Linked DNA regions of Homo sapiens: region 1 is linked to region 2. The links come from fine-mapping of genetic effects on gene expression. Tissue or cell type: hippocampus. Region 2 holds a variant in brackets; the other region holds the start of a gene. All regions are shown on one strand. Distances are between the middles of the regions.

What was found. PIP is the estimated chance that this variant, and not a neighbour inherited with it, causes the effect.
Region 1: SEPTIN11 starts here. The variant in region 2 is fine-mapped to the expression of SEPTIN11 in hippocampus (GTEx, PIP 0.94).

The regions. Positions count from the first base shown.
Region 1 is chr4:76,946,245-76,952,113 of GRCh38, forward strand. It overlaps SEPTIN11 (septin 11), which reads left to right and starts at 3,508. Exons shown (of 10, transcript NM_018243.4): 1 at 3,508-3,686. The coding sequence starts at 3,660. LOC105377294 (a long non-coding RNA gene) reads right to left here and starts at 3,321. Exons shown (of 3, transcript XR_001741739.2): 1 at 2,719-3,321. RefSeq lists an enhancer at 2,293-2,372 and silencers at 3,283-3,462, 3,493-3,802.
Region 2 is chr4:77,244,991-77,253,410 of GRCh38, forward strand. No RefSeq gene overlaps it. Among named protein-coding and RNA genes, the nearest start is that of CCNG2, 92 kb to the left of the region's middle. The variant A/G (reference allele first, on the strand shown) is at 4,631.

The DNA.
Region 1 (5,869 bases), 300 kb before region 2:
GGAAAAGCTCTCCAAATAAATTGGGGTTCAATTAAAAAGGGAATAGACCCTAAATTACTAACAATGCCAAATATTCACTATAGCTGTTTTCTAAAATGCAAATTTTCTTTGCTTAAAGACCTCCTTGACTCTTCATTACCTTAGTATGGCAATAAAAATTATTCATTTCCTAGTCTTTACCCTCATCTCCAACTCAAAATTTATTGAATATACCAGACCATGTGACAGAAGCTAATAGACAAAAAAGCACTCTTACCTTGAGACATTCATAGTCTAGTGACAGAAGCGTGATAGTACGACCACTTCTTGATTGCTTAATATGTCTAAAGCAGAGTTTACTGGCAATAATAGCTGGGGTGGCCATAAGTCCTTGTTTTTCCTATTGTCCTGACATCATTACTATCAGCACAAACCCCCTTTTCCCAGCCTCAAAAGTTTCTCAGTTTGGACAGAAATTATAGGTCATTCTAATAATAATAATACAGTATTTTCTCAGTTAACTCTCAAAACAATTCTGTGAAGGAATGAGATGTTCATTCCTACTGGATAATGTGAGTAGAGTTTTATAAAAAGACTATCTGCAAAGGTATGTGCAAAATGAAGGGAAACCATAGGGGTTTACTCTGGGTCACCCTAGGGAGGGATACTGGCTGCTTCCTTTGGTTGAGGGAGGCAACCAGCCTGCAATGGTGCCATAGTAAGGGAGCCAGGGGGGAATAAATAACCATACTCCTTCCTCTTTGTTCCATCGCTGTTGCTTCCTAGTGCCTTCACTCAACTGGAAGCTAGAGGGAAAGAAAGTCTCTTGAGTTAAGGCTCCAAAGGACAGACAGCAGGTTGGAGAGTGGATCTGGCTAACAGAACACGTCCTCCCCCAGGACTCACTGTTACTACCCTATTTTACAATAGAAAAAAAAAAAATGAGATGAAAGTTTAACTTATTTGATATAACAAAGCTCATAAGTGATCATCTGTAGCTGAAGTGCCAGGTTCTCCCCACTCTGCCACTCTCTCGCTAAGGCTCCAACATTCTAGCAATGCCAGGATACCCACCCTCCCCATAGCATCTTCACATCCCAAATGAGATGTTGGAATATGTAACGTTAAGTTTTGCTGATTAGAATAAACTAACCTACCCACCAAGGTAGGGCATTCACATTCTTACAATCTAAGCAGATGAGTTTACAGCATATACATTCACAAAATAAATAAGTAAAAAAAAAAAATTTGATAAACAAATTCTACAGTCTGTTCTGGTCAAGATAACACAGTTCCTTTGCAACTGCCCTTACATCCGGTTGGTGGTGTGTGGAGCCCTCTTTTCCCAGGCCTTACATGAGGCCTCTGGTCCATGGGCAGTGCTGCTGCTGTCTGATCCTCCTTATGGAGAAAGGACAAAATGTCCATGTACCAGAGCTGCAGAAGAAAGTATTTGTCTTCCCCCTCCCTTTGCACAGCACCCATCTGTGTGTAATCTTATTATTATATATTTTTTGAGACAGGGTCTCACTGCGTCACCCAGACTGGAGTGTAGTGGCGCGATCTCGGCTCACTGCAACCTCCGCCTCCAGAGTTCAAGCGACTCTCCCACCTCAGCCTCTATAGTAGCTGGGACTACAGGCAAGCGCCACCATGCCTGGCTAATTTTTGCATTTTTTTAGAGCCAAGGTTTCACCATGTTGGCCCACCTCAGCCTCCCAAGGTGCTGGGATTACAGGCGTGAGCCACCGCGCCCGGCCCATTTATGTGTAATCTTAATTCAACACTTATTGAGCGCCTACTGTATGTTTGGCATAAAATGGTGGTCCCTAATTTCAAAAGATTTGGAGTCTAGAGGGCAGAAATTGAAGAGGTTGGTGCTCTGCACGTCTGAGTCCGCCCACAGACTGAATAAATAAGCTCTGCGTCGGCGCCCCTCACCTTTCTTTCATGGCCAGACTTTTCTCTGGCGGTTCCACAGCTGTCCTGACAGTGGAATTCAGACGGGGTGACCAAGCCCCTAGCCCACCTACCAGCGAAATCCAGCATCAGTTCCAGGGCAGCCGGACCCGCGCCCGGGGACGACTGACCCTTAGCCCAAGGCTGCGGGGGCGTCGGAGTCCTGAAGCGCAGGCGAGGCAGGGCCAGCGGGACAGGGAGACTCAAGGCCCCAGGGGATCTGGGCGTTTGAAGACTCAGGTCAGACTCTGAGGCGCCCGTCTAAAGAGACCGGTTGTCTTTTCCCTAATTCAGGAGGCCAGGCTGTCCCTTGGGGCGTCGTACCGAGGGCAGATCACAGCCCTTCCCTCCTCACCACACTCCCTGTGCTTCCACCCAGCTGGTTCCCCGCCCTGTCCATCGCTGTCCTCAATCGCTTGTTGTCGTGGGCCCCCCTCTCCGGCCCACGTGGGGCCGCAGGGATCCACAGCTCATCTGACACACCTCGCTGCCCTGCACGCACCGGGACCCCTCCATTCCGCCGGCCCCTCAGACACGCAGTAACACCCCAACATCTGCTGGGAAAAAAATCTTCCCCACGGCGGAGGAGTTCTCAGTCCCACGCGCCCAGAGTCGCACCCACTCGAGCCACCCGCCTGTTGCCGTCGCCACGCCCTCCAGCCGCAGCCCCAGCGCGCATTCCTACGGGTCGCCGGGTCTGTCGCCAGCGATCGAATGAAGTCGGCTGATCCCCCACGTGTGGCTGCTCCAGTGACACCCAGGGGAGGCCTCGGTCCTTACCCCTAGAGCAACCAATGGCTGCCTTAATTCTTCAGCGGGGGCGTTCTTTTTCTTCCTCCCAAGCAGGCGGCCGTTGGGTCGGCCGAAGGCAGCAGCGACTACTACGGCTCTTCCTCTCCAATGGGATCCCCTGTCTGCCCGCGCGCCACAGTGACAGCTTCCAGATGCCTGTCTTTAGTCTCCCTTCTCAAGGGAAGCGGTGGGCGACCGAGGTGCGGCCTGGAGGGCCCCCATGTGGGAAGGGAAGACTTGCGGAAGGGCAATTCTTCCAGTGCGGAGACGAGGAGGCCAGCCCAGCCGCACTTCGGTCGCCCACCGCTCCGCCTGGTGGTCCGCAGCCCCTTCCAGGCCGGCTTCTCCGGGTGGGGCGTGCTAGTCCGGGGCTAACTTTCCGCCACGTGCTGTCCCTGCGACCCGTCTCCCCCGGTCGCCCTTCCTTCTCCCGGCGGCCGCTGGAGCTGCCCGCTTCGTGGAGCCGGTGGCAGGCCCCGGGGCTGGGAGCTCGCGCCCAGGCTTTTACTCAGATTCCAGCACCTGATGGAGCAGGGGGTGGCGGCCAGCGCACAGGCTGTCGGCATCTCATGGCAGCGGAGACGGTCGTTTGGGGACGGAGGGGCGAGCCCCGCGGCCGGGGCCAGTGGAGCTGGGCTCGGAGCCCGCCCACCATCCTCCCGCCCACCACCGCGGCCGGGCGCGCAGGCTCACACCCCTTCCTGGGGAAGCGAATGGTCCCTTCCAGGCGGGTGGCCATGTTGCTCTAATAAAGCGGGAGGGGCGGCGGCGTGGGGGGAGCAGATGCCGCTGGCTGCCAGCGGGACGCCGGCGAGCAGAGCGCAGCCGCGAGGGAGGCGCGAGGGAGGCGAGCCGGAGCCCGAGCACTAGCAGCAGCCGGAGTCGGCGTAAAGCACCCGGGCGCAGCCGGAGCCGGTGCCGCAGCTGCGATGGCCGTGGCCGTGGGGAGACCGTCTGTGAGTGCTGGGGCCTCGCCTGCTGCTCCTCGGGCGCCGGGTGGTCTCTGCTCTGGGGCGGGTGCGGTGAGGACCACAGGGGAGCCGGGCGGGTGCTCGGCCCCGCGGCGGCGGCGACGGCTGTGGGTGTGTGCACGAATTTGGGCGCGCGTCTGGGGTCGGGGTTAGGAGCCCAGGGGCTCAGTTACGTGATGCAACAGTGGATCGCCTCGTCGCGCCCCTCTTCTGGGAATGCGAAAGAAAAAGGACCCCTCTCCTGTTCCCTTTAAAATAATTCTTTGAGGCGCGGCGTGTCTCAGCCGCCTCCCTCTGCCCGCGCACCTCTTCCCTCGTGACAGCCAGAAGGGCGCCGGGTTCGGGGCTTTCCTCCAGTCTCCCCCGCGCCGAGGGGGCGCTCAGGGCATGGGAATTGCGAGCTGAAGTGCTGCGTGTGGCACTGCTGTAGAAGCAGGTCAGAGGGGTGGGATTTCCGTGGTGGCCTCCCCAGCGCATTGTGAGATCCCGGACACCCTCGGGCATCCACCCGGCTGAGCGGGCCCTGCCCAGGATGTGGACAAAGCCCCAGATAACACACACAAAGTTTTCTGGAGGCTCCCTTGTGGTGTGGGTGGAAGGACTGAAATGTTCTGCGGCTGAAAGGCCGGGGGCGGCGGGCTGAGGAGGCTGGGACGCGAGGAAGAGGAAGGGCGGGCGGGTGCGTGAAGAATCGAGTGCCCCACGGCGGGAGGGAGGAGAGTAGGAGGGAGGAGATACCTTTGCCCCGAGTGTGTGGGCCAAGGCGCCGCGCCTACTGGGTTGCAAGACTCGGTCCGCGCCCCGGGGCCGGGCCGGAGGGGAGCGGGACTCCGAGGGTGCGGTTCAGTGGCCGCTCCGCATCCCCAAGTGAAAGGCGGAGGAAGGGGCGGCGGCGGCCTTTCCTTTTTTTTGAAAGGAGCGGAGCTGGGTGGGAAAGGCGGAGTCCTCCTGTTTTCCCTTTCCCCTTTTCATCGTCGATGTTCACAGTCCACTCGCCTTACTGGCTTTGGGGGCGCCTCGGGCGATGTCTTTCCCTGTCTATCACCTCCTCTTCCCTTTTTCTTCTTCCCTTTCCCACAGCTGTGCAGCTGCAGGTGGTGGCTCGGGAGATTTTGTAGTTACAGACGAAAGACTTACTGAGATACTGGAAGCTCGGAAATCCCAGAAATGCAAGGCTGTGCTCTCAGGCTCCCGGCTCTTCCCCCTCTCCCCGCCTAACTCCTCCCCAGATACGCGCGCCTTTTGCACCCTACCCCCTCGGGAGAAGTTCATGGGTCCCTTTGCGGATTCTAATTCGATTTGGTGGTTCGGCTGCCCGCGGTGCTTTCAAAGACGTTTTCTGCAGTCAGAAAACACAGCGGTCATATCGAATCATGACTGTCTTTTAGGCCTTTTCAACTCTACGATTTAATGACATGGCTCTTTTAAGAATTCTGGTCTTCTTTTGCACATAAATTGTGCTCTTGATAATTAGTGGTCACATGTAGGTTATTGTTACTGAGGGAATTTGCATAGTCTCTGGGCTAGTCGTTTTATTTTTGGTGAGAAAATTGAGGTCTATAGAGGTGAAATTTATCTGGTTAAATTACTCCTCCCCCTGCCCCCCATTATACTTATTAGCAGGCATAGATTCAGAGAACTAAAATAACAATATCTGCTTTAGATAAATTGGCAAACGTTTAGGATTGCAAATATTCAGTGGGGGTGTTTGGCTTTTTCAGTAACACGTATTATTGCTGGTGCATTCTTGAGGGATGGAGGAGGTGGAAGAAATAATTAGCTGCACATTTTCTATAAATTAGTTCATATATGTCAGTTAAATAGGAACAGTATGTGGATTTAAGGTTTAGTTGTGTGGCCGTAATCACATCCAACACCAAGTCGGCCAACCATATGTGAGCTTAATCCCACAGAATTCTTATGTTAGACCTCCCTCTTCAGATAATAGAGGAGATTTTTTTTAAGTATACGTGCACAGAGGAAGTGACTTCTTTCTGCGCACTCTGTTGTCACTGGAATTAAAATTAAATTACAATCTAAAGACAGAAGACTTTTCTTTTGGAAACCTAATGTACGAGTGATTAGGAATTGACTATAAAGTTAGAAAGTCTACAGAAAATATGTGATCACATTTCACAGATAATTGTTGAATCCTTTCACTTTGTTCA
Region 2 (8,420 bases):
GCATCTGAGTGGAGTTTGGGTCCTATGGCCACCAGACCTCTACCTAAGAAGCCTAGGATGTGGTTGTAAATCCCAGGGCACTCAAGAGGGTTTAGAACCCACTTAAGTCTGAAGCAGAGAATGGATCCTCATGTTGCTAGTCTGGATCCCATGGGGTTGAAGGAAATTGGCTCCTGAAATTACTCCTGATCCCAGTTGCACCGAGCACTGGGAAACTTGGACTACTTAAATGCCTGAATTGCGTGAGTTGTAGGTTTCAACTCAGCAAGTCTTTGGTAAGGCTGGTCAAGTGGTCTTCTGTCTGGCTAAAAAACTTGTTGGAAATTCAGTGGAGTCACTTATTCCTGGACATATTGTAGGATAAGTTAATAGGGTTGCTTCTTTGGTATGAGTGTCGAAAAAGATAATCTCAGGTACTTGAGGATACCTGTTTCCTTAGCTGCCTGAGAGGCTGTTGCTTATGTGATATACCCCTTTCATGAGTTGCTCAGATCAGAAAGTGGATCTTTGTTTTTTGACTAGGCATCCCAAGGCTGTGTAGCTAGATACATTTTGTAGTCCCCCAAATTTTTCTTATCAGGGAGTCCACGTTGTGAGGTCTCAAGGGACAATAACAAGCCAAAGCAGGACCTGAATGTTAAGAGGGAACTCCTTAGCGAGTAGGTTGACCAAAACTCAGATAGCCTAGTTGATCGTACACTGTCAGCACCTTACCTAGGACACTTGTCAGGTACTTCAATATTGATGCCCACGTTGGCAGCTACACACACTCTGACATCCTTAGGGAGAAATCGACCATTCCCCATAGATCTGACTCCAGCTTAAGGTATGCCATGTCCCGACCCTTCTCTCCTGACTACAGTGACTAGTTCAGGGATGGGCATGCCGCTGAAACCCTAGAAGATATTGCTAGAACTGATGTTTCCAGAAGAGCATTTGGAAGGGAAAAAAACTTGAATGATTAGTGCAAAGCATTTGTCATGAAGGGAGTGCCTAGAACTTCCCATCCAGAGGGTGGTGGGGTTGAGAGTTTAATCTGATACCATGGAGGGTAGAAGAGACAAAGGAAGTCTTACTCCTGGTGCACCTGAGCCTGTTGAATCAGTCTCACTTGGAGCCAACAGTGTTTAGACTTTGCAGTTCGTGAGCTAATGAATTTCCTTGTTACTAGGCCAATGCAGTTGGTGGGATTCTGGATCACTTGTGATCAAAAGAATCCTAATACTTGCAGCCCAATGGAGTGTAACCAAGGATGTGGATATTAGAATAAACTGGGTTTTCTCTCACTTGCAAAGTTAAAACCAACCTGCTAGTTAACAAGCTTGGAGTTAGGAGTACTGAATAGTGTCTAAGGCTTATCAGATTAAATACTTCAGAATAGGGAAGGGAGAAGTAAGCCTTCAGGAGAACTAGAAAGGCTGTGCCAGAGCCCATGTAACATGGACATCATGCTGAATTATGGCTGACCTGCTTCTAATTCAGCAGCCTTATGTGCCGCTCGTATAAAGATAAGGTGATATGTTAAGCTTCTGTTGCTCAAGACATTCTTTTAAAGTCAGGTAGCCCCCACCACTTCTGGAACTTCTGTGCAGGAATGACTAAAGTTGAAACAACAAAGCTTTAAATGGAAACACTGTAAAGGGATGAACTAGCTGATGGGTGTCATGTCTATAACACGAGCCCTCATGCTAGCATGGGTGATACAATTGCCAGGATCCAGCTAGCCTCCAGTAAAAACAAGTTTGAATTTTGGCCTCCCTAGTCAGTGTTCCCCTGACCATTTATGCTCGAGAAACTCAGTAATGAGCCTCTTGGGGCACTGAGGCCCTCTGGTATATGGCTATGTGCATGGCAGCCATAAGTTCATCTGGGCTAGTAGCAGACATGGCATATAGAATGGAGTCAGATAGGAGAATCGAAAATAACTTTCCTGGTGCACTTATGAGACAGTAACATGGCAAACTGAAACATGACAGTTGGGAGGGGTGGGGGTTCCCTCTTGGAAAGGATGACCCATATACCTCAAACGTGTCAACATGAAAGTCAACACCCAAGGTATGAAGGTAACTCAAGATCTGGCCTAGTCATCTCCGTTCAGACGAATGGTCATCCTCCCTCTGAATGGAGCACTTGTGACAGTGTCATGGACATGTATACGCTACTTTTCACATGGGGCTTTATTCCGGAGCTGTAGAAACTATATCTCAACTTACTATAGAGCTGAGTTTACCCTAGAGTCTTAGTTGGCATCTAAAAACTACATGCTATTGTGTCATGAGATGCAAAGGCTAAAGTAGATTGAGAGCTTCAAGAATCTTGGGGTTGAAGAGAAAGTTCTATAAGGAATTGAACCTGGGAGAAGATCAGAGGATCACACATGTCTGACTTGGGAGGAAAGAGAAGAAATGTCAGATAGGAAGTGGCTTAGTATCGCACCTCAGTCTAAGTGTTTTAGCAAATATCCTGGTAAGTCCCAGAGCCCAAATCCCCACTGGAGTCACATGTGTCCTGAATGGGCATATTGAGCACTGCAGCTGCACCTTAATGGCTGCCAAGTCAGCCCCTGTGCTGCACAGAGGGACCTGGCTACACAGGCTCTCAGAGCAGCAACTCCATGTCCCTCAGGCCTCCTTTCCTGAGTAAACTCAAGATGCTGTGACAAAATGCAGCTCCTGTGGCTGTAGTGGGATCTTGGGTCACAACGAATCCTCATCCTCTCTCCTCCAATATCCACTGCCAAATTCCCTTTGGCCTCAGCTGTGATCTCAGCTGAAGGTTCACGCTTTCCGGGTGGTAGGACCCAGATCTTCAGCCTGAGGGGCATAAAGATCTAGAGACCATAGGTTTTCAAGATAGTGCTGCTTGGCTGTATCTGTTGGAGTGGGGCAAGGAAGTTGAAGGATGCCCGGTTGCATCAGCTGGGTTCCATTCATTCTTACTACCTCTCAGAATATAAAAGTAGCCCTCTGATCAGTCAGTTACTCCTGAAGAGTGACTCTCAAAATCCCGCAGTGGTTCACATGGATTGATTAAAAAAAGCATAAGTGGCCCCCACTTTTTTTTTTTTTTATTTCTTGGTTCCCAAACCATTAGTTTTCCTGCTGGGCCTGCAGTACCATGGAACAGCCTGCCTGATGTATGTACTGCATCCTATATGAGGGTATCCTAAGTGTGAAGCCTTTTTGACCCAGTAACTAGTGCTTCTGCCAGGCTTCCTGAGGCTGTCTGAACATTCTACAAGGCTACTTCTGAATGGTCTTGTGTAATAATGACGGATGACCTCCTCCAAGACCCAGATCCCACTTGGTATCTTTGTGACCTGAGTCACTTTGAGAACTGAGGTTCACAATCTTGCCCAGGTGGGAACACTGAGTCACATGGCAAAAATTGAAGTTCCTGAGAAATTTGGGTCAGTTGGGGCCTCAGTTGGCCAGCTTCTGAGATGCGCTTCTCTGGAGTAGTAGTGACTGACAGTCAGAGTCCTAAAGAGACTTTTGGGGCATGCAGGTGTGGGTGGGGTTGGGAGGCAGTTTTTGGGAAGGGGAATGAGTTAAGCTGAAAGGAAAATGGATCACAAAGCTGGGGATTCAAAGTGGAAGCTGTTTAGGACAGAGGACCTCAGTGAGGGGTGGCGGGGGTGGGAATAGAAGCTAAAGTATAAAGCAGAGTGAAAATAGAGGAGCTGACACTGGCTTTTCTGTTAATGCCAAACACCTTGGAGCATGGATTGAGGGCCAAAGAGTAGAGGGTTGACAAGGTTCTGCAAATGTTACCTTGAAAAACACCTTGTTCATACTTTTACATAGAAAGGAATCAGAAGGCAGAAATGTATGGCTGTATCTTCTATGTTTTCACCTTCCAGTGTCTTACTGTGTACAACTTTGCTTTAAAATGGGAGCCTTGCTAGGCCTCTTAGGCTTGTTTAACTTTTTTCCCAATGTGGGGAAGACACGTGATAAAACACGGCAGAGTAAACAATGTGAGCATGAGACCAAGTCCTTGTGGGAACAGAGCACATGGCAGCCTGACATCCTCCCTGCATTCGCCTGCAGCTGAATGTGCTCATGTGCAACCACAGGGTCACTTGCAGGCATCTTCAATTTGCATAGGGGCTTGGGTAGACAAGTTTTGCCAGTCTTTGCAATCAATGTCCCAATGTTGACTTTGGATAGGCAGGACTATCGCTAGAACTTGTTGTTTCCATGGCTCTTCCAGAGAAGTTGGAGAATGTTAAAGAACAGTTATGATGCTTGATATGAGTCAAAGTTCTTAAAGCACTTCATGATTTTTCTGCATCCTTGATGGCTAAAGTCAGCATGTTACTGCATGAGGAATTTATAGGCAAACTACTTGGCCAGGGAAATTTAGCTGAGGTGTCATTCTAGGTTTAGAATGTAGTTCACCTGAATTGATCTAGTGTTCTTTCAGACACCACTGAATTTACAGAAGCAAAACACTCACTACACTTCTCAGGTCTTGGAAAATGCTACCAGTACAGAGAAAGATGATAGAATTCCCAAATACCCTCTACCCCCTGGTGGCAAGATGGATATCTGGCATCTCCTTGCCCCCAACCAGTCTGGCTCTGTTGACATCCTCTCTGATTCAGTAATGCTAGTTCTTGGACTCT[A/G]TGTAGACCGTAGATAAGACCATAGTGGGCATTGCTTCTCCTGGATTCAGAAGGTAGAATTATCTCTGGCTTTCTAGACACTTGTGTTTTAATGGGACAGATGAAAGAATTCCACAGGTGGAGTCAACACGAGGGAATACACCATGCCAGTGTAATAAGAATTATCTAGGGCCATAAAGGGCTGCAACATGTTGGCTTGTACCTAGAAGTTAGAGGAAACCATGGTATGGCATGTTATAAAGGGGCCAGAAATGGGCAGAACACCTCTTCATGGGACTCCAGTGTTTCACTACCAAGTATACTATTCTCAGGAACATCCTAAATCCTTCAGTCTGTTCAACTCCCTCAGTTTCCCCTAGGTGTTGTAGATAGCTTGTATCCAGATGACTGACTTTGGATTAAGGGCTCAACATGTGGTTAAGCTATTGGTACGCTGACTGACACCCTCTTTTAAATACTGAGACAGGTGTCTGAGAGGTGAGCTTTAAGTGTATTAGGTGAATGGGCCTCTCTTCCAGGTCACATTGCTGAAGACCCTGGAAATTGCTATGAGCATGAGGGGAAAATCTAAGCTATAGAAACCACAACTAGAGCATGGTACTGGTGTGCCTCAGGTACTACAAAGTGATAGATGGCACAGGTGGGGGTACAAAAGATGACCCAAGTGAGGGTAACATTCCAGACACCCATAACTTTCAAGCACAAACTGAACCCTTGGCTGAGCCCTGTCCTCCATTATATGGAGTCCTATGGAGAGTTGTAGTGTGCAGGATCTGGATTTTGCGCAGTTGCTGTACTTGCAGGCCAGGGCAGACCCTCATCAGGCTCTGTCCTGTGTGACTCTTGAGTCAACAGTCATGTAGAGACAGGAAGTCAGAGATGGAAGTTGGGCTCTTACTTCCAGGAAAATGACCTGACATGGGTCCTGTGAGAACCAAGGCACTGACAGGGTAACTTGTCCTGTCTCCTAGGATCCCCTTTTCAGCTGAACAGATAAAACATGATTGTGGAAGAATCCTCATCTGCCTTGTTAGATTGGAACTTGCATTCCGGAATTAGAAGTAATATTGATGTTAACACATCCAAGTGCCTGTCAAATGGCTTACTGTGGTTCTTGTCTGTTATGTCACAACAGACTTCTGACTGTTCAAGCTAACTTGTGCCTCTTTAAAGAAGGTAAAAATTGTCCTACCACGGGCCACTGAGATGCTTCTTGCACTCTGTCCTTTCATGAACTAGAAGTCAGCCATGCTGTTGTAGGTCAAGGTGCCTGCATAAGACTTTCTAGGGGAGGGGCAGAGGAGAGAGCTAAGCAGGCATATGGTATGTTGGAGTTCAGCTTCCATCTGGGCCCATGGTGGAGCTCTGAGGGTACAAAAGCATGTTGAGGGTACAGAGCATGTTGCTCTGAGTGTGCAAGTGCCATGTTGAGGTATCGATGTAAGCATCTTATTCCCAGAGTCAGTACTGGCTGTGGGCTGCTGGGGAAGAGGTCTCTACTAGGCTGAGGGCAGTTCTCCAGAAGAAGTGGCTTGGGAACCATTAGCAGCCAGCAGTCTTAGCTGCTGGGTGGTAAATGCCCTGACTCAGTAAAAGGGCATCGCATGAAGCACCAACTATTTTCATCATACATGCTGGAACAACTTGTCCCACTGATGGCAAGAAGGGGGTGTGATTGTGTACCAGCATACTCTGGTTGTTGCCAAATCTGTGACTTGGTGAGTATGTGGCTGAGCATGTTGCCACATGCAGCAGGTCCTCTTCACATCTGAGAAGGGCAGTGCACACCAGACTCTGTGAAGCTCAGCATGTTTGTGGTGCCAAATATGGAGACGGAAGTATCATGGAAATCCAGAAAGGAGAAGTGGAAGGAACTGGCTGGCAGGATGGCAGTGACATGGGCATCTGTCACTCAGCATAGCAGGGACCCTGGGACCTCACCAAGTAGAATTTAAGAGCGCAAGAATCATATTAGAGAATGGTAAAAGCTAATCACAGAGCTGGTAACTCTTCTTCCCTTACCTAATTCTGTTGAGAGCAGTAAGCCCAGCCACAACTACTTGTTTTGTGATACTTTGTAGCTCAGGGTGGGCGTGACTCCAATTTCTACTTACATCTTATGGGTCTGAAGGTCAATGGGCTTCCCAGGTTATCTACTTAAGAGGAACAGTCTTGGCTAGCACACGTATTTGCATTTCCCAAATCTAGTGAATTCATAGCTAGTGATTTCCCAAATCAAGTCATTTCATATCTAGTGATTTGGACTGGATTTGCTTTCTAGTCTCTGACCTGCTTTTCCATGTAGAAGCACTTGGCACAGGTTTCCTGTCGAACTGCTGCCTTTCCTATAGAGCCCTCCAGATGGAATCTCATCTTCAGTGACTGGGTGTGCTTGGCAAGTGAGATGGCATGGTAGGACTAAAGTTGTGCTTATTCTAAGCAGGTTGGGAGGAGTATTCAATAGGGCCACTATATCATCGACTTCCATTCTTCTAATTAAACTGGAAACTAAGAATTAGGTCTGTAGATATCTTAACACCACAATTCATGAAGGACATAGCAGGAGTAGTCTATATATCTATCACTTCCATAGATTGAGTTGAATAGGAGTTCAACATGCTATTCCCCCATGTTCCAGATGGCTTGGACCACAGGGTAGACTCTCCCCCATTTTTGAATGATTGTCATTCTAACTGGCATGAGATGGTATCTCATTGTGGTTTTGATTTGCATTTCTCTGATGACCAATGATCTTTTGTTCATGTTTGTTGGCTGCATAAGTGTCTTTTGAGAAGTGTCTGTTCATATCCTTTGCCTACTTTTTCATGGTTTTTTTTTTGTTGTAAATTTAAGTTCCTTATAGATTCTGAGTATTAGACTTTTGTCAGATAGGTAGCTTGCAAAAATTTTCTCCCCTTCTATAGGTTGCCTGTTCACTCTGATAGTTTCTTTGGCTGTGCAGAAACTCTTTAGTTTGATTACATCCTATTTGTCAATTTTGGCTTTTGTTGCCATTGCTTTTGGTGTTGTAGTCATGAAGTCTTTGCCCATGCCTATGTCCTGAAGGTATTGCCTAGGTTTCCTCTAGGGATTGTGTGGTTTTGGGCTTTACATTTAAGTCTTTAATCCATCTTGAGTTAATTTTTGTATAAGGTATAAGGAAGTGGTCCAGTTTGTTTTCTGCATGTGGCTAGCCAGTTTTCCCGCACCACTTATTAAATAGGGAATCCTTTCAATCTTATGCTCTTTTGCCACAAGGATAAAAACCTCTCAGGGAATTAGAACTGAGTCAAAACCTGTCCAGTGGCTGTAGCAGAGCCCTTCTAGACCCCTAGTCCCAGGTTCCTTTGAGGTATGTCTCCAGGCAGGAGCAGTCTTGTCCAAGTCTTCTCATAGGTGCAAGATGGAGAGAGACTAAAGTGATCCACTCAGGGATGGGACTGTGCTTTAACTCTCAGCTTGTTTTCTCAGAATATCCTCAACTTTGACCCTGAGCCTTCAGCAAATGAGAATAGTAGAAGGTAAAGCCTAAATGAGTTCCTGCTGCCTGGAATAGGCACTCCTGTAACTATGGAGGCCAGGTGGGCAATGTGGGCTGTGGTAGGTATCGGTGGTCCTGAGGGGAGGGATCTCCTGTGAAGCCTATGATCTTAGTAGCAGCCTCACAGTGAAATTCGTTCTACAGTGTATGTCACTGTAATGGGCTGGAGTTCTGAAAGAACCTGAGCCTTATCTTTGGTTATCCAGAGTCCTACAGAGAGTTCTATTGTGTAGGATCTTGATTTTATGC